Linked DNA regions of Homo sapiens: all the other regions are linked to region 1. The links come from fine-mapping of genetic effects on gene expression. A gene starts in region 1. Each other region holds a variant in brackets. All regions are shown on one strand. Distances are from middle to middle. Region 1 holds the start of MGAM (maltase-glucoamylase). Region 2 overlaps MGAM (maltase-glucoamylase). Region 3 overlaps MGAM (maltase-glucoamylase). Region 4 overlaps MGAM (maltase-glucoamylase).

The links.
Region 2: its variant is fine-mapped to the expression of MGAM in whole blood (GTEx, PIP above 0.99). The same link has a PIP of 0.9 or more in monocytes.
Region 3: its variant is fine-mapped to the expression of MGAM in whole blood (TOPMed, PIP above 0.99).
Region 4: its variant is fine-mapped to the expression of MGAM in whole blood (TOPMed, PIP above 0.99).

Annotation. Positions count from the first base shown.
Region 1 is chr7:141,993,259-141,999,371 of GRCh38, reverse strand. MGAM (maltase-glucoamylase) reads right to left here and starts at 3,493. Exons shown (of 71, transcript NM_001365693.1): 1 at 3,442-3,493. RefSeq lists an enhancer at 3,294-3,795.
Region 2 is chr7:142,063,129-142,067,128 of GRCh38, reverse strand. MGAM (maltase-glucoamylase) reads right to left here. Exons shown (of 71, transcript NM_001365693.1): 36 at 3,543-3,630; 37 at 2,607-2,745; 38 at 1,661-1,794; 39 at 1,507-1,541; 40 at 1,298-1,414; 41 at 408-556. Among named protein-coding and RNA genes, the nearest start is that of MGAM2, 47 kb to the left of the region's middle. The variant A/G (reference allele first, on the strand shown) is at 1,519.
Region 3 is chr7:142,105,822-142,110,870 of GRCh38, reverse strand. It overlaps MGAM (maltase-glucoamylase), which reads right to left. Exons shown (of 71, transcript NM_001365693.1): 71 at 4,124-5,049. The coding sequence ends at 4,980. Among named protein-coding and RNA genes, the nearest start is that of MGAM2, 3.4 kb to the left of the region's middle. The variant C/T (reference allele first, on the strand shown) is at 3,355.
Region 4 is chr7:142,049,305-142,053,304 of GRCh38, reverse strand. It overlaps MGAM (maltase-glucoamylase), which reads right to left. Exons shown (of 71, transcript NM_001365693.1): 23 at 3,021-3,070; 24 at 2,441-2,608; 25 at 859-1,011; 26 at 321-521. Among named protein-coding and RNA genes, the nearest start is that of MGAM, 55 kb to the right of the region's middle. The variant A/T (reference allele first, on the strand shown) is at 1,654.

The DNA.
Region 1 (6,113 bases):
ACCAGCTTGGGCTTTCTGTGAGATTATAGTTTTATCAAATAAAAACACATTAAGTTTATGGCCCATAGCACGTTTTAAATTATCTGGGAGACCTAGAAGAAGCTACTGATGTGCCTCATTTGCCAAGATCATTCATCATTATCTAAACTACATCTCTGGAAGAAAGAAATCTGCTTGCAGTTTATTTATTCATTCATGAATTATTTATTAAGTTCCTACAATGTGCCAAGCATTCTTTCAAAAACTGACTACACAACAATGAACAAAACAGATAAAAATCCCTGCCGTCATGAGACTTATGTTCCCATGAATAGAAAAAAGAGACAATAAACAAAATAAATAAATATACACTGGGTTATACTGTGTAAGTATATGGAGAAAAAGTGGGGGGTAAATGAGGAATGTTGGGGTAAGGGTGGCAATTTTAATTAGGTTGGTCAGAAAATAATCTTACTGAAATATAAGAATTATTACTATATACATATGAACGCTTTTACACTGTTGGGAGTGTAAATTAGTTCAAGCATTGTGGAAGACAGCGTGGCAATTCCTTAAGGATCTAGAACTAGAAATACCATTTGACCCAGCAATCCCATTACAGGGTATGTACCCGAAGGATTATAAATCATTCTACTATAAAGACACACGCACACGTATGTTTACTGCAGCACTATTTACAATAGCAAAGACTTGGAACCAACCCAAATGCCCATCAATGATAGACTGAATAAACAAAATGTGGCACATATACACCATGAAATACTATGCAGTCATAAAAAAGGATGAGTTCATGTCCTTTGCAGGGACATGGATGAAACTGGAAGCCATCATTCTCAGCAAACTAACACAGGAACAGAAAACCAAACACTACATGTTTTCACTCATAAGTGGAAGTTGAACAATGAGAACACATGGACATGGGGAGGGGAACATCACACATTAGGGCCTGTCAGGGGATGGCGGGCTAGGGGAGGGAGAGAATTATGACAAATACCTAATGCATGTGGGGCTTAAAACCTAGATGATGGGTTGACAGGTGCAGCAAACCACCATGGCGCATGTATACCCATGTAACGAACCTGCACATTCTGCACATGTATTCCAGAACTTAAAGTAAAATTTAAAAAAAGAATTATTACTATATATACATTACGCAAAAGCAATAGAATTTTTTTCTTCTTGAATTATTTAGTATATGAATAATTGTCAAAGCTCATTGTCCTGGTACCATTATAGTTCTTTAGGCAAAGTAGACAAACCACATGGGGGCCCAAATTATTAAAATGGCTATCTAAATTAATTTGGAAAAACTGGATATTTGTCCTCTTTCCGGCATTATAGCCAGCGTTTGATGTGTATATGGAGGTCTAAGCCATTCTTTTAAAATCCTTTGCTAACACAAGACATGAGATCTAGTGGAAAAGAGGATTCATTGTGGATAGATAGACTAAGAACAACTTGCAAAGAGGACCCCAGTGAGCCATAGCTATTCATCAAAAATGCTGGGCGATATTAGTAGGTTGGGCCATCCTTTCCCAGCTGCTTGGTGAATGGGAAGGGATAAGGTAGCTAATGAATGGCTTTTTTCTTCCAAGTCTGGTCACACCCAAGGTGAGAGATTTAAGAGTCAGCTCTGACCCTAGCCAGCTGTATGACCTTGGAAAAATCCACTTAACCCCTCTGGGTCTCAGTTTCCCCATCTGAACTGCAAAAGGATCATCTCTAGGAGACAGCTAACTCCTCCTTGAGCCCAGCAACAGGGTGTGCAAAGGCTTATATTTCTCATCACATTCCACAGCTGCCACCTGAACAAATTTTAAATGGAAAATTTCTTTTCTAGTTCCATTCCATGCTTATAGAACAATTTTTATAGTAATTTTATTAGCTCATTAAAATGTATTTGTGAGGGAATGCCTGATAATAAAAAATAATCATTGGCATCTTGTGAGAGTGTGACTGAAATAGCAACAAGCTGTCTTAAATTTAGTGTCCCACTTCATTTGGTCCCTGGTAGCACAGGGACCTACCAGCACAACAAACCAAAGACCCCCTCCATCTCACCCCCTCTTTGCACACCTACAGACATACACTTACTGTCCCACACCAGGACACAGACTGTAGACAGTTTGGACATTGGGAGGTCTTCCTCGCCCAGCAAAGCCACTGATCAGATCCTGCATGAAGAACCTAGTGGTATCCTTTTTCAGGGAGACCCATGGGGATTAGTCTCAATTTCTCTCTCTTTCCCCAAGAGTAACTCTCCCTTCCCACCTCTGTAACCAGTCAGAAAAGAAATGCCTGCGTGTGTCTAGCTAGACTGGCAACTAGTAAGGATCCAACTTTTTTTAAGTTTTATTTTAAGTTTTATTTTAAGTTTATTTTAAGTATTTTATTTTAAGTTTTTAAGTTTAAGGGCCAACAACAATTTATCACCTTCTCCTCTTCCCACGAGCACTCCCATTCTACTCCACACATGACTGCCAGGACAGATACCCTACCTTTCTCTTTATGACCTCCTCCCACATTCCACAGGAAACCTCTCCTACCCACCAATGCACACCAACTCATAAATGCATCCCAATATTTTACACACATCCTCAGACTATCCCCTAAAATTATTCTGTATTTAATCAACAGAGGCACCAAACCCATAAGCATAGTGATATATTTCTCAATTTTCTGATTATAATTGGTTCTTCAGTTACATTTTCTCAATCACAACTCCAAATCCTTTCAGAGGGAAAATGCTCTAATCTCACTCCCAAATTCTAACTCCTTTTATTCATTTCTCTCACTTCATTTCCAGAATCTGAAAGAATTTCTGCCTGCTACCTCAACCTAAGTATTAAATAATTCATCACACCTCACACAGAAACACACACAAACACACAGGTTTCACTACAATCAGGCTTATAGATCCAGCCTTAGTTCAGAAAAATATACACACACTAAGAAAAAAAGATAAATGAGAATTTTGTTCCATGTGTATGCATGTGCATAATTTTTGATTTATTATTGGTGTTGTTTATCTTTGTGTTTAACAAATTAACAAGGGCTTTTTTTTTTTTTTTGAGACGGAGTATCGCTCTACGACCCAGGCTGGAGTGCAGTGGCGTGATCTCGGCTCACTGCAAGCTCTACCTCCCAGGTTCACGCCATTCTCCTGCCTTAGCCTCTCCGAGTAGCTGGGACTACAGGCGCCCGCCACCATGCCCGGCTAATTTTTTGTATTTTTTTAGTAGAGATGGGGTTTCACCATGGTCTCGATCTCCTGATCTCGTGATCCACCCGCCTCGGCCTCCCAAAGTGCTGGGATTACAAGTGTGAGCCACTGCACCCGGCCAACAAGGGCATTTTGACTAAAAGAGATCAACTCAAATTCACACACACTTGTAGACACACATCTGTAACCGTAAAAGAATACAAGGTTCACAAACATACCTCATTACCTCTTGCAGCCGCTCCCTCTCTGTCTGAAGGATGGCTTAGCAATAAAAGCAGAGGAGCACAGTCCACCAAAGCAACCAAAGATCTGGTAACTATTTACCGACCTATCAAGAAAATGTTAATGGCTTTCAAATGCAAATGAATGGCCAGCTTTTATTTCCAGGATCAGAATTTTTAGTTAATTAGTAATCGTGGTCTTGCTCTAAGAAGGACATCCTTAAGACTTTTGGAAGGAAAAGCCAGCTCCCATGACCCACTCCATCCCCTCCAGGCACTGAATGTTTAATCGGTGGTGAGGACACCCTGTATGTCTGGTAAGAGAACACAGACACAATTTGTAGATGATAAAGAGCAAAAAATAAATGACCCCAGTATTCCAAAAGAGCCCTGGTCTCTTGCACTGACTCCGAATCTCTCAGGAACTCACTGACGTTTAGTAGCACAATCTGATGATTGTGATGGAAGGAAGTTGTTTTAAAAATGTTTTAAAAATAGTTTTCTTCTTTCTTCTTTAAGGTGTCCTTAAGCTTGTTTGCAGTATGGAAATCCTTTAACAGTCTGGTGACTCTTGAACTGCCTTTGCAGAACTATAAATAAGAGAAATCTAACAAGACTGACTCCATCTTGCTTCTAACCTCCCAGGCTAAATTATGTTTTCTAGGGGATTTTTTTTTTTTTTGGTTGGCTTTTTGCTTATTCTAGTACAAAGGCCAAGAAACCTATGAGAGGGATTTAGTTTATAGTTAAACTTGGAGTCAAGGGAAAATGATCCCCCTCCTTGCCTGGAGCTTAAAGGCGCATTCATAAGGCAAGGTTGGAATTATGGTAGGGGCTTAGACTTTGCTAAAGAATAGGCATAAACAATGTCCTGCCATGGCTTAGTTTGTTTTTCTATAAGTTGCTTACTGCCCCAGTCACACAACCAGTGTCACAAAATTCATAACTTCCCCAACTACCAAAGATAACATCACTGTATTGGTCTGTTTTCACACTTCTATAAAGACATGCCTGAGACTGGGTAATTTATAAAGAAAAGAGGTTTCGTTGACTCAGTTCCGCAAGGGTGGGAAGGCCTCAGGAAACAATCATGGTGGAAGGGGAAGCAGGGACTTCTTAACATGGCGGCAGGCCAGAGAGAGTGAGCAAGAGCAGGGAAAACTGCTTTGCAAAACCATCAGATCTCATGAGAACTCACCCACTATCATGAGAACAGCATAGGGGGATCCGCCCCCATGATCCAATCACATCCCACCTGGTCCCTCCCTTGACACATGGGGATTATGGGGATTACAATTCAAGATAAGATTTGGGTTCTGACACAAAGCCTAACCATATCAATCACTATTGTGAAACCTAAATAACTGGTCTTTTAGATATTTGTTAGCATTTCAGTAGACCAACAGACACCACCTAGTCTTGAGGCCAACACACACACCCCTCCTGGGAACTGACTCAGTTGCACAAAGACAGTTTTAGGTGCTCCTGTGATTTCATTCCCTGCCAATCAATTATACAAGTTCCCCAGCCCCATGCCCACCAAAGTACCCTTTACAAACCTTAGCCTTTGAATCCTGAGGGAGAGGGGATTGAGAAGTTTTTGCCTGCTCTTGTTTGGCCAACACTGTGATTATTCAACTCTTTATTTACTGCAATGCCTGCTGTTCTCATTGATCTTTTTGGAGGGCAGTGGGCAAGAAGAACTTATGGAGCTGAGACATGCTTATAAACCCCTCTTAGAATTAATTCTTAGGCCAGGTGCAGTGGCTCACGCCTGTAATCCCAGCACTTTGGGAGGCTGAGGTGGACAGATCACCTGAGGCCAGGAGTTCAAGACCAGCCTGGCCAACATGGTGAAACCGCGTCTCTACTAAAAGTACGAAAATTAGCCGGGCATGGCGGTGCGTGCCTGTAATCCCAGCTACTCATGAGGCTGCGGCAAGAGAATCACTTGAACCCAGGAGGCGGAGGTTGTAGTGAGCTGAGATACAAAGAAAATCAATTACATTGAAACACAGTTACTATAATATTTTTTAAATTATAGTTTGTGCCTCTTTAATGACATACTAACAATAAAGCGATATGTCTAATAGCGATTGCAATTTCAAAAACATGATAAGCGTAAACAATATCTTGAGATTGTTTTAAATATATGATGTGAAAGTAACTGTGACCTCTCTTGAAACCAAATTCATAGGTACTACTAACACCACTGTAGTTTGCAGCCTAACTCTAAATTTCAATTAGAATTTAGCAAAGAAAAGATATGTAAATATTTTCCCCCTCCAAGTTCACAGGCTTTCAGAATTATATCTACAAACCCCAGGTTAAGAACTTTGCTCTGTTACTAAGTGGACCTTCCTCCAAGTGGGGCAGAGTTCCCCGCTCTGTGATACTCCAAGAGTTATCTGTGAACCTGTGGTTGCCAGCTTCCAGAAAAATAAGCACAGAAATTGAAGGTAAGTGTTGAGAGACTTGCATTACAATTTGACAGAATCATTTCATGTCATTGATCTTGATAATTAAAAAATGGAGCTTGTATCTGTATATGCTTTTTTAAAATTTATTTTTCAAGTAATTTAGTTTTAATTTTACAAAAGCCACAGTCTGTGATATATTGGACAATTTTAAAACAATTGCTGTTTTACCACACATAGTTTAAAAAGTCC
Region 2 (4,000 bases), 69 kb before region 1:
GTTCTCTCCTGTAAAATATTACCTCATTTCTTAACCATGGCACATTTTAAATGTGAGGATGGCCCTCGTCCCTCAATTCTCTTGCTGAAATCCTTCTTTTGTGACCTGGGTCCATATAACAAAACTGCTACATAAGATAGGCCTTTGCACAACCAAATTAGAATGAAACTATTCTATGCTGTACTGCATCATTTCAATTTTCGTCATTCAATAAATACCCTTTTTTTATGACCTACGGTATGTATAACACTGTGCTAAAGACAGTAATCAGGTATACTTTGTGTCTGAAGAGCTCATGTCAAAAGGCCATCATGTCTTTAATTTGGAAGCGTTGTGTATATCAACTGCTACCACATAGAATGCAATAAGTCATCCATTAGTCATCGGGATCCCTGCTGGACACTCACTCATGGAGCAGAGGCCGCACAACAGTGACGCCCTCCGTGTGGGCCTTTTGCATCAAGGTATACAGATATGGCAACAGGGTGTATCTGGTCTGCAGGACATTTCTGGAAATATTCACAAAAGCAGCATCCCAGGACACAGGGTCTTGTCTCTAAAGGAGAAAGAGAACAGTGTTGGGAGCTCGCCCTGGAATTTCTAGGGGATTTAAGAAGGTCACTAAAAGCATACTCCAATTGAAGATCACTCACAGCTAAACAAAAGAAAACTATACATGAGGCCCAGAGAATATTCTTAATAGACCGGAAAGAGTCACCAAAGCTCTCCTAAGACAGCTGATAAAATTTCACTGTAAGACATTCTTTTTGGAACATTTGGTAAAATTCTGCCTGAAATACAGGAAAAAAATAATAATCTAAAGCACAATGAGGAATATGGTTCATTGAGACACCAGGTCTTCACAATTTTTAAGGGTGCAGTGGCTCACGCCTGTAATCCCAGCACTTTTGGAGGCTGTCGAGTGGATCGCTTGAGCCCAGGAGTTCGAGACCATCCTGTGAAATATGGCAAGATCCCATTTCTACAAAAAATCAAAAATTAGGTAGCCACGCTGGGATGTGCCTTTATCCCAGCTATTCAGAAGGCTGACGTGGGACAATCGCTTTAGCCCCAGAGGTGGAGGCTGCAGTCAGCCATGATTGGGACACTGCACGATTCAGCCTGGCCAACAGAGTAAATCCCTGTTTCAAAAAAAAAAACAAAACAAAACAAAACAAAAAAAAACACCTTTTTTTAAAGATATCCCAGGAAATAGAGACTGCATTACTTTTAGCACAGAAATGGAGACTGTCTTTCAAGTGACATAAAACAGTGGAGGTAGAAGCCACTGTCCTACCCTGGTCCCAATGGTATTGTGGTTTCTTGAGAAGGGGTAAAAGGCCCCCAGCTGCATCCAGCGAACACACATCTCGTACTCAGCGTCTTGAAAGAACCCACAGATATCTGCTCCCGTCTGAAACAAGAGGAAATAAAAGGAGCCTGCTGATGATTTCTGAAAGATGTCCCCACCTTCTTGGTGCTTAGGAGGATCCCAAGGACACTCACATAGGATATGCC[A/G]AAGAGGCTGAACTCCATCATGCCTGCAACGAGAAGCACAGCTGTGTCACACCAGGCTCTCATGATCTGCCTCCTCACCTCTTCCCTAAGGATCCCAACTCCCTGCCCTGTCGGCAAAGGCCCTGGGGAAGGACCCACGCACCAATGATAGACTTCTTCAGCTGATCCCATGCGGCCGTGTTGTCTCCCAGCCAATGTCCTGCCCAGCGGCCAGAAGAGGGAAATGTGGAGCGGGTGATGACGACCCCTCGCTGTCCCGTCACCTCCTGCACGGCTCTGCTTGGAAGGGAACAGGAGGTGAACTGAGGCAACAGCCAGGGAGTAAAGGCCATAGAGCTTCTGCTCCCAGAGCCCTTGAGCCTAGTCAATGTTTGCTGCGTGACTGGAGGGAACATGGGACTCTGAGCTGTAATAGGAGTTCCACTGATCCCAGATGATGGAGATAATGAGTCACGTGTTCTCACAGTGCTTTACAAAGAACTTCACTGTAGCAGCCTCACTGGAGTACTCCCAAAATACTAAGGAATTACTATGTCTTGCTAATGGTTTCCTCAATACTTAGTTTTCTATATTTGAGAAGGAACACAGTGAAGGTTATAAGATCCTCTTAGAAGAATTCATACTATTCATTGAGCTTGCAAAGCAGGACTGTGCTAATTCAGTACAATACCAGTTACCCTCCACCAAGAATGGCCAAAAATACAAACATCTCCAAAGATGATTCACTTTGAAATGAACGGGAGAGATGCCCAGTCCTCTGTGTTCCCTTCACCTCCTGTAACTAAAGCTATTGTTCCACTGGCTGCCCTGTGTGACCATTATGGTGTCTCCATGTGAGTCTTTCCCACTAGGATCATTAAGTTTTTCACTGGTGGGACCATGCCTTATTTAAATCTGTCCTCCTACTTTTAATCACAGGGCCTGGCTCCATGTCAATGAGCATTTGTTTAATAAATAAGAATCATTACAGAGTTATGAGAATCTTCTTAATCCTTAGAAATGGAATGAAAGGAAAACTAGGGTAGCTATGTCAGTCACTGGCAATCGCTATAGGTTGTGACAGCTGGAGAAGGGAGACGGAGACTCACTCGTATGTGGGTCTGGTCTGGGACCACCCATACAGGTTGTGCACGTTGTAGTGCTGCACCAGGGAGCCGTCTGGGAGGATCTGCTGACTCTCCATACAAAGGGTCTTGCTGCTCAGGCCCCTGTCCCTGGACTCCAAATCTGAGGAGGAAGAACTGGCGAGGTGAAACCCAGCCCTGATTCTGTTTCTCCCTGACTTCTCTTCAAGGGACTGGGCCCTGGATCTTAAGACTAACTTCAGTCCTGCCTGTGTCGCTCTCCATCTCCCCAGAGACATGAGCACAGCGCCCCCAGCTCTGAGCTGCATTGGCGCCTGCTGTGTTTCCAACATCAAGTTCACTGAAGGAAGCAGAGGTGTCAGGAAGAACGTACAGCTGTCAAACACTACATGACGGGCTCTGATTTAGGCTTTTGACTTCCAATTATTTCCATAATTCTATGAAGAAGATCTCATTATCCGTCTTTTACAATTTAGCAAACTGAGATTTGGAAATATCACATAATCTGTGAAAAGTCACAAAACTCCTAGAGAGAACAATTTCTGGAGCCAAGATATGAACCCAAGTGTAACTCCAAAGTCCATCAGCTCCATGATAAGGGGAAGCCAGTAATTTCCACTCACTGATGACACAAGAAATTCCTGTGATGGAATTCACACAAGCCTAAAAACTAAGAAACTCAGCTGTGAGAACCCTTTGTGCCATGAGCTCTGCTAAGTGCTTTCTGGACAAATTTCAAGAAATTTGCTCAATGAGTCTAGTCACTTGCCCATGCCCGGCTGGGTAAAGCACGTGCAGAGCTTTTGTCTCTGGTCCCCAGTAAACCACAGCAGCCATGAGGATGTGCCCTCAGCTGTGGGGCTGCCCCTGGCCTCGGGCTCCTCCAGTGTAATCCTTCCAGTCATGGCTCTGCCAGTCAAGGAGGCCAAGGCTTCTTACGTGGCATGTAGGGAGGGTGGTTCAGAGAGGCGTCCCTGCAGCCTGGAGAAACTGCCCCATTCACGAAGCTTGATGGTTCATTCATATCCTAGAAATGCCAAACACAGACATACCTCACTTTTTAAGATAATTACGTCCTGCCAATTCTGAGCCAAGGAAGTAGTGAATAAATTGTTCAACATCCAGTAATCTCTGTAGATGCCAGCCCTGGGAGCTTCATCAAATCCTGGTGAGAACTGGCTAGAAAGATTAATTCACTCCTACAGAACGACTGGCTAGAGGGGTAAAAAAATAGATCTCTTTCAGGGTGGCTGTGAGGCAATCAAATTTCCAGAAATTCCTAGTAAATTGCCTCCCAGGTTTTTTTTTTGGTTTTGTTTTTCATTCTTTGAGATGGAGTTATGCTTGTTTCCCAGGCTGGAGTGCAATGGTGCGATCCTGGCTCACTGCAAACTCTG
Region 3 (5,049 bases), 110 kb before region 1:
ATGTTCTTCGATGGCTCAGCATCTTTCAAAACCTCTTGCTAAGATGGGGGAGGTGGGGAGGGAGACAAAGGTAGTAACACTACCTATTGGGTACTATACTCACTACCTAGGTGACAGGTTCAATCACACCCCAAACCTCAGCATCACACAATATACCCTTGAAATGAACCTGTATATGCACCCTGAATCTTAGACCCTGAATCTAAAATAAAAGTTGAAAAAAATTTAAAAACGGAGGATCTTTCTTTAAAAAGAAAAAGAAAACCTCTTACTTAAATCAACTTAAGGACTTTTTCTCCAAATTCTGCCTCCCCAAAGAAACAGCTAGAAATTCTCTTTCACAGCCTTTCTTTCATCCAAGGTAGAGGCAAGTGGCTGGAGCTTTGTGAATGAGATATTCCTGTGAGTGACTTACATCCAGAAGAAGGTGTAGATAAGGAGGTACCATGTAAAATCCAGGATGTTGGAAGCATAGCTCGTTTCAGAGGCAGCAGGGACAAGAGACCTAGTGGCATCCTATGCTCAGTATTTGGGGTTGCGAGCTGCCAGATATGTGCTCAGGGCAGTGGCAGTAGAAACCGCTACAGGGTAACCTGGGGCTTGTCCCTAGCCACATGGCCTACAAACCTGACTCTCTAGTCCTACCGGAGTTTCAATGAGTCACCAATATCTTTTTAAAATTTTTCTTAAGCCAGCTAAAGTGGATTTTTAAATTGACATATAATTTCCAAACCATAAGATTCACTCTTTTAAAGTATACAATTCAGTGTTTTTAAAAATATATTTACAAAATTCTGAAACTATCACCACTATCTAATTCCAGAACATTTTTGCCACCCCCAAAAATAATTAGTGGTCACTCCCCATTCCCATCTCCCCCTGTTTCTGCAGCCACTAACCTACTTTCTGTCCTTATGGATTTGCCTATTGTGAACATTTCATATAAATGCAGTAATACAATATGTGGCCATCTGTGTCTGGCTTCTTTTACTTGGCATGATATTTTCAAAGTTCATCCACACCATTTCAGGTATCAGTGTCTGTTCCTTTCCATGTCTGGATAGTATCCACTGCGTGGATAGACCACATTTTGTTTAGGCATGTATCAGCTGATATACATCTAGGTTGTTGATACTTTTTGCCTGTTATGAACGATGCTGCTATGAGCTGACACGTTTTAAAATTCTGCCTGGAATATACCTAGGAGTGGAATCATGGGTCATGTGACAAGTCTTTAACTTTTTGAAGAACTGCAAAACTGCTTTCTAATGTGGCAGCACCATTTTACACCCCCATTCCTGCCAGTAATATATGAGGGTACAGAGAGCTCTTTTGGTGGCACCTAAGAACTGTAAATAACAGTGTTCACAGTAGTGAATCTTTTGTGTTTGCTTCAAATGCTCAGTATGTGGAAAAGCACACATACACACACACACGGAGAGAGAGAGAGAAAGTGAGAGAGAGAGAGGGAGGGACAGAGAGAGAGAGAGAGAAAGAGAGACTCGGTTTCTGCATTTATGAACTGCTGGAATGACATATTCAGCTTTTCATTTGCCCCAGTACAAGGTGGCCTTTGTTAGAGGGGAAATGTACCAAGATCTCATTTCAAATTGGGAAGACATCCTGGCAAAAGGTCAAGAAGGGAGATTTTATTGTTACATAAGATCTATTTTTTGTGTGATATTTTACCTTTAACTCCCCACATGCCATGCACATTTGTGACTTCATTTATGTTAATAGTGGTAACCAACAGGCCCAGCTAATCTATAACCTGTTTCCTAAAGTGCAGAAAATAGCTACCTTCACCTTCCATTCTTGCTAACTAGTAACTGGAAGATATTGAATCACCATACTGGTGTTGACCAATGAGAAAATAACAGAGCCACTTTGAAGGGTAGAGACAGGCACGTGACCCGACATCTTCCAGTTGTCTATCGGTAACAAGGCACGGCAAAGTTAGCTATTGGCGGAACTCAAACAGTTGTCACAGCAAGCTGCTGGTTGGAATCATCAGATCAGAAACTAGTAATATGAGTCACCCTTAACTTCCAGAACACCTTTCTCCAAGGCCAGATGCAAAACTCTCAGTGACTCTGCCGCTATGACAAGAACAAAGAAATATTGATGAGATCTTGAAGACATCTGCCACGGCCAACATAACCTTATCTTTGCAGGTATATATGACATTTAATGTTATAACATTAATAAGAAAGGAATAGATGTCTTCCTATTTAAGTGAAAGAGTTTGAGAGTGTTTTTTTTTTTATTTTGGCACACCTATGAAGAAAGCAAAATTATGTGATCTAAAAAACAGAGCATATGTGGAAAAGGAAGGCCCCCAGCCTCTTCCTGAATAGCTGGCCAGGAGTTGTAAGCATAGGTCCATGTTGTAGGGGCTGCTCTGGGATGGCCACAAATGGATATGGTTCCATGAGAGGTGGTTCTCAGACTGTGATCTGAGGAACAACCTCTGGGGGTATTATTGAGCGAAAGGGCTCACTCTTCGATGCGCTAGAAGCCAATACTCTGATAAAGGGTTTCGAAGAAAAGCTTTTATTGCAAAGTCGACTCACAGGACACAGGAGTCCAGCTCAAACCTGTCTTCCTGTGCTGGCTTTAAGGAAGTATTTTTATCAGAAAAGACTTAGGGGGTGGATTCTGGGATTAGCAGGTGATTGGTAAAAGAAAGAGGAAATCTAGAAAGTCCTCAGGCATGCACAGTTATCTCTTCATGCCTCATCATGGGTCTCATGTGCAAATTTGGGAGGGAGTTAGTAAGAACCTGTGGTGGAAATTCAGGCTGTGACGTCAGCAAGCTCTTTCTGCGTTAACTCCGGTAAGCCATATTGGTTCCAACAGATAATCTCTTTTTCACACATTTCTGGCTGAAATTTAGCATTTTGTTAGGTTATGAATGTAGACAACAAAACACAGTAGTTTTCATAGCACATGAGTTTGTCAATAATGCAATCACAGATCTTTCCATATTACATTATGAAATTGTAGTGGATATCTCAAAATATTGTTGATGTTGATCATTACATTGAAATTATAGCATTGTTACTTCCACTGTTGGATCTTTTCATTTAATTTGATAATGAAAAAAACACATCTCATGGGTTACTATATCATCTTTAATATTTGGATAAGTGTATCGTAATATGATAAGTTTTCTTTGAAATAGCATGCATTTTGCTTGATGCATTTAAAAACAATGTTGTGAGGAAGAATTCCGTAGGTTTCACTAGGCTGTCAGTGGGGTCCCTGACACTTCGTGTGCTCCAAAACCCCACTGGCCTCACTAGGGCCTTAGCCATCAGAATTATATAGTCAGAATGCCTCTCCTTAAGCATT[C/T]TGTGGCAGCCAGAGCCAAATTCCACCAACATATCCTTGATGGTAACATTAAATATTTTTTAAATATCAAGTAAATAACGTTTTCATCTTTGTGGCCTTCCTGAGTTTGTTAGAGGAAAGCTGACAAGTTTCCCACCTTTTTGATCAAAGGATTCCCATGGCTGCTTTTCCATATTTCACCAGTTTCCTAGTTAGCTCAGGCCCTCATCCAAATGCCCCGTATTGTGATAATTAGATGATTTAACAATATTGTTTGTCTCTAGCCTTATGCAGGTGCTGACACATGAGTGTGCAGGGAGAATGAATGGCTTCCTGGTTATAAGAAAAGAAGAAAACACAGAGAAGTAGGTTCATTCATTCCACACACATTCATTTTCAACTCATTTTCAGGTAACATCAAAAGTTAATATTCCTGTTGAACATTAATATATAATTTCCTTATCTCACATTTTAACCCTATAGAATTTTAAGCAAGAAGGTTGCAACTCCTATTTTTACTGGAGTTGGTATTTTCCTAAATATAGCAACTGCTATGATGATTAAAATAGTAATCAATAGACCCTTCCACAAACCCACATCTTATAAAAGACTCCTTGCAGAGATGTAAGAAAAAGGATAATTATAAAGGTTATCATCCTATTGGTGGATTTGGCTGTAGGTTCTGTGATGCCGAAGAGAACCAGAAAGACAAATTCATAAGAGTTTGCTAAACAAGAACCTTAACCCCAAACAGAGATTACTCATGGTCAAAATAGCACAAAATTCAAAATCACTTGCAAATTCACTTGTTTTATTTTTATCTGGCATATAAATTGCATATTTTTATGTGAAATGTGGTTGTATACATTAGAAATAAGATTTACACATTTCAAAGCACACTACTGCAAAAATAAATTATTTTTAACCTCCAAACTCTCTTTTGAGCTTTGCCTGCTCAGATCTCAATCTCACCAGTAGCCCTTTATGCTAAGGATTTCTCAAGACCCTCTTCTTCAAGTGAGTTGACTCTTCCTTTTTCCTCCCCATGAGGCTGCTGACAATTTTACATTATGTTCTTACTTAGGATCACTTTTACTATCATCTTCTGTTTCATCTGATCTTTCCTTGTGTTTGCCTTTTCTTTGCTTATCATGCTCCCCCCACCTATAACCAATTAGGTATATTATTCCTCCCACCGCCTATAACCAACTAGCAGATGTTCTTTCTGGATACTTTCTTGAGATGCTGATTAGCTTCAAGACCTGGAACTGTCACAGAAAGCTTTCTCTTGTGTATTTAACAAAAGAATGGGGTCCATTCTATGATTACAAACGTGGACATACACACACTTCATCATGGACCCAGTTCATCTTCAGTAAATGTCATATGATGAACAGTCACTACCATACTAACCACACAGAGACATTAAGGTAATGCATAGATTTTCCACACCTCCCTAACTGCCTATCCCACAGGGCTAAGGTTTAACCTTTAGGGTTCACACAAAAAACATATAACAAAATTAACAGAAATATTTCACCAATAGTGGGTATGAACAAATTAGCAACACACAATAATTTTTATGAGTATGAAGTATAAGTAGTTTCAAAGTCATTCATAGTTAGTTAGAATCTTGCTGTAAAAATTCACAGAGTGCTTATCCACGTCAATGAAGTAAAATTATGTAGGCTGATGTTTCTGTCAGTCACATCGATG
Region 4 (4,000 bases), 55 kb before region 1:
TGTTCTCCACCTGCATTCCACTGTCTAGTCCAAACCTAATCCCTCCACTGACCTGCCTAACTGGTAGCCTCCCAAGTTGTCTCTCCGTACCTACTCTTGCTCTCCCAACCATTTTCCTAACAGTAGCCACAGTAATCTTTTCCAAATGAAAATTAGGGCAGGTCTCATTGTTCCCTCAATGATTTCTCAATGCTCTCTGGATAATGATATAGTCTGTTGTAGCATGATTAACTTATTTTAGGGTTCTGTGATCCAGACCAATAAAAGGTAATGGAACTGAAAAGGGTCTAATCACTACCTGATACATGTACTGTGTTTACCTTGAACTGCAGCATTTCATTCTTATGGTAAGTGACATCCAGGCGAAGGGGGTTCACGGGTGTGGAGGGGAAGGCATTGGCATAAACGGAAGACTTTAAGGAGATGTCAGCTGTGGCCCCATGGGAATTATACTGAACATCACTGACAGAGTATAGGTCGTTGACAAAATAGCAAAAAGGGACTCCAGAAGAATTGGATGCCTGAAAAGTAAGGCCAAAGTCATAGATCAGCACAGCATGTGGTCTTAAAGTTCTCTAACCTAAACAGGGTTAGTAAAGTCATTTTATATGACGATAAAACTAGCCCATCACTTATCACTTGGCAATAACATAAATTTCAATTCCTTGTCTCCAAGCAAAATATTCATCTTAAGAAGTTTCGCACATGTCCCCACCTACTTGTCACATCTAGATCCTGTCCCTTAGGAAGTTCTTTCTATGGATTTTAAGTAGTTATGTAAGTACCACTGCTATGCTTAAGAAACTACAGATTAGGTGTGGAGATTCTCATGCACACAAACCCCATCAGCATGGTTACCTCCCAGATACAGCCACGGGCAGTGCAGTTTTCGGCAGAAGCACCATTCTCATCAGGGTAACAGTCTATTTTTTCTTCATCCCTTATCTTTATGCTCCATTCCACTGTGTATGCTTCTCCCAGGAGAAGATCAATATCTGTGATAATGGCAACCTGTAGGAATGTGGAAATCATAAGGAAATTCATCTTTAGGAGACAGGCTTTGCAAGACCTGAGGTTTTTTTTTCGATAAAAAAAAAATAGAAATTAGACCAGACTTTCAAACATCCAAGCAACATATGACTTTAGCTTATAAGAAGAGAACTGCACATTGGGAGAATCTATTTAGCAGCAACAGGTCAAATGTCTCCCCTCTAGCACAATCTTGTACTTAGCATAATGAAAACAGTTAGGTCAAATAAAACCTGTTGTGATCACCCCTTATTCTTTTCTACCCTGACTCCTCTTAGCTCGCTGTGAGATGACACATGATGTCATCCTAAAGTGAGTTGATCCTCTTGCTCTCCAATGCCCAAACCAGTATCACCCATTGGCGTGGAGTGGTAGAAAGAGCACAGCAATAAGAATCATATGACCTGGTTATCATGCCCACATTTCTGTAGAATGTTGGACAAATGATTTCTTTTTTTAATTTTTAATTTTAATGGGTATATAGTAGGTATGCATATTTATGGGTTATATGAAATATGTTGATTCAGGCATACAGGGCATAATAATCACATCAGGGTAAGTCAGGTATTCTGTTTCATTTCTTTGGGTTTCAATTTTAGCAACGGCAAATTTGAAAAGTTGAAA[A/T]AAACATTATATTTCTTTCTATTTCTAACATCCCAGCATGTTCATTTCTCTAAGCCCAAAGACTCCAATTCTGAAACCTTCCTTGAATACCATTAGTTCAAATATTTAATATTTTTCTATATAGTTTTCTTATCTTGACACTTCTTTAAACAACACTTCCCAAGTTAAAGTTCTCACTTGTCTGGAGTACAAAAATCACATTCTAAAGATTATCATCCTTCTCCTAGTCTCCTCCCAATCTAAACCATCTTGTACTTCCCTGTTCTACTAGTCCCCAGCCCCCACTCCCACTCCCAACAATGCTCACACACAGTAGCACAGCCTTCATTCAAGGATCAATATGAGACTGCTTGAGAATTAAATCAAGTTGGTAACTAAGACCTCCAAAACCTGACCACAAGTTTCCTATCCAAACTGGCCTTTTTCAAATACCAATTCTTATTTGTGCTAGTCATACAAAATTCACAGTCTAATAATGTCAGGCTATTCCCCACTTTCCAACTTTGCTGTTCCTGGGTCTCATCATAATTATTCTATTTTTGGGAAAAGCAAGTGAAACCAGCTAGAAAGACGGGAACACTGATAGGCAGAGAAGGGAATAAGAAGAAAAATACCCAACTCATTCTAGCTCTGGCCACCTCATTTTTTTCCCCAGCCCTCTCACTTCCCCAAAACAGGCCTCAAAGGTGCCCTGGTCCTTCAGGGACCCATGCAAACTTGGCAAGAAGGAACATCACGATGCTATGGAGAATTCTCAATGTACCATCTCAACAAAATGGGTTTTTACCTTCAGGTTAGAATCATAAGTGACTGTAGGAGAAGTCTGACTTGGGACACCATTGTGTTTCACTGTAACATTGCTAGGTTCCTCCGTCCCAAGAATTTTAATCTCATTAAATGCTAAATTATTGGGGTCCTTGTAGGTTGATTGTGAAATATTCACCTCCAAGCGGTTCTGCAAAACAATTAAGTCCAAGTATGCATAAAGGTATATGAGTATACACAGATTCTCAAGTCACTCAAATATTCCATTCCAGACCGGATACCCCCCACTGCCATAAATGCCTCTCTGCTTTCTCTACTAGTGTGTGCTGAAGAAGTACAACATTATTTGGATAATCCTCTAATTTAAAACGATCATAAAAACACACAGGCATTTAAAAACTGTGTTCAGAAACACTAGCTGCTATATTAATGCCTCCTTTTGAAAACATCGATGAAATCATAAATAGAAATGTACTCACCTATAGCCAATAATGCATATAAAGTTACAAATATAATCACACATATACAATATACACAAGCACAGATGTGCTAATGGTCAGTCCAAAGCCCACACCTAAGATTCATAAAAATATGCTACTCACTTGAGTGACAGAAAACTCACATAAAAGATACACTTTATTGGCCACAGTATCTGAAAGTGAGAGAAAGACAAGTCAGATTCTGGCCTGCCCACCTCAGAAGAACAGATTTCACCCTACCACTCCTTTCAGCTATGCCTTGAGGTCACACATAGCAGTTTTCCTTTTCCTTATGGATGAATAATTTTCAATTGTATATGTGTATCACATTTCTTTATTCATTCATTCATCAATGTATAATTAGATTGTTTCTATATCTTGGTTGTTGCACATAATGCTGTAATGAACGTGGGAGTGACTGTATCTCTTAAAGATACTGGTTTCATGTCCTCTGGATATACACCCAGAAGTGGGATTTCATGGGATTGTATGGAAGTTCTGTTAATTTTTTGAGGAACATGCATACTATTTTCCATAACGGTTGTAACAATTTACATTCTCACCAACAGTCTACAAAAATTCCATTTTCTCCACATCCTCGCCAGCACTTATCTCTTATCTTTTTTATTATTTCCATGCTAACAGGTGTGAGGTGGTAGCTCACTGTAATTTTTTATTTGCATACCTGTGTCACTTACTGATGTTGAGCATCTTTTCACATGCCAGTTAGCCACTTGTATGTCTTCCTTGGAAAAACATCTGTTCAGGTCCTTCACCCACTTTTTAATTGGGTCATTTGATCTTTTGCTACTGAGTTGCATGAGTTCCTTATTTTTTTATATTAATCTCTTCTGAGATACATGGTTTGCAAACATTTTTATCCATTCTGTAGTTTGCCTTTTCACTTTGTTGATTATTTATTTTCCTGTGCAGAAGCCTTTTAGTTTGATGTAGTCATGCTTGTTTATTATTTGCTATTTTGCCTTTGCTTTTGGTATCATATCCAAAAAGTCATTGCCAAGACTAATGTCAAGGAGGTTGTTTCCTGTGTTCTTCTAGGAGCTTTACAATTTCAACCCTTACATTTAAGTTTTTAATTTTAC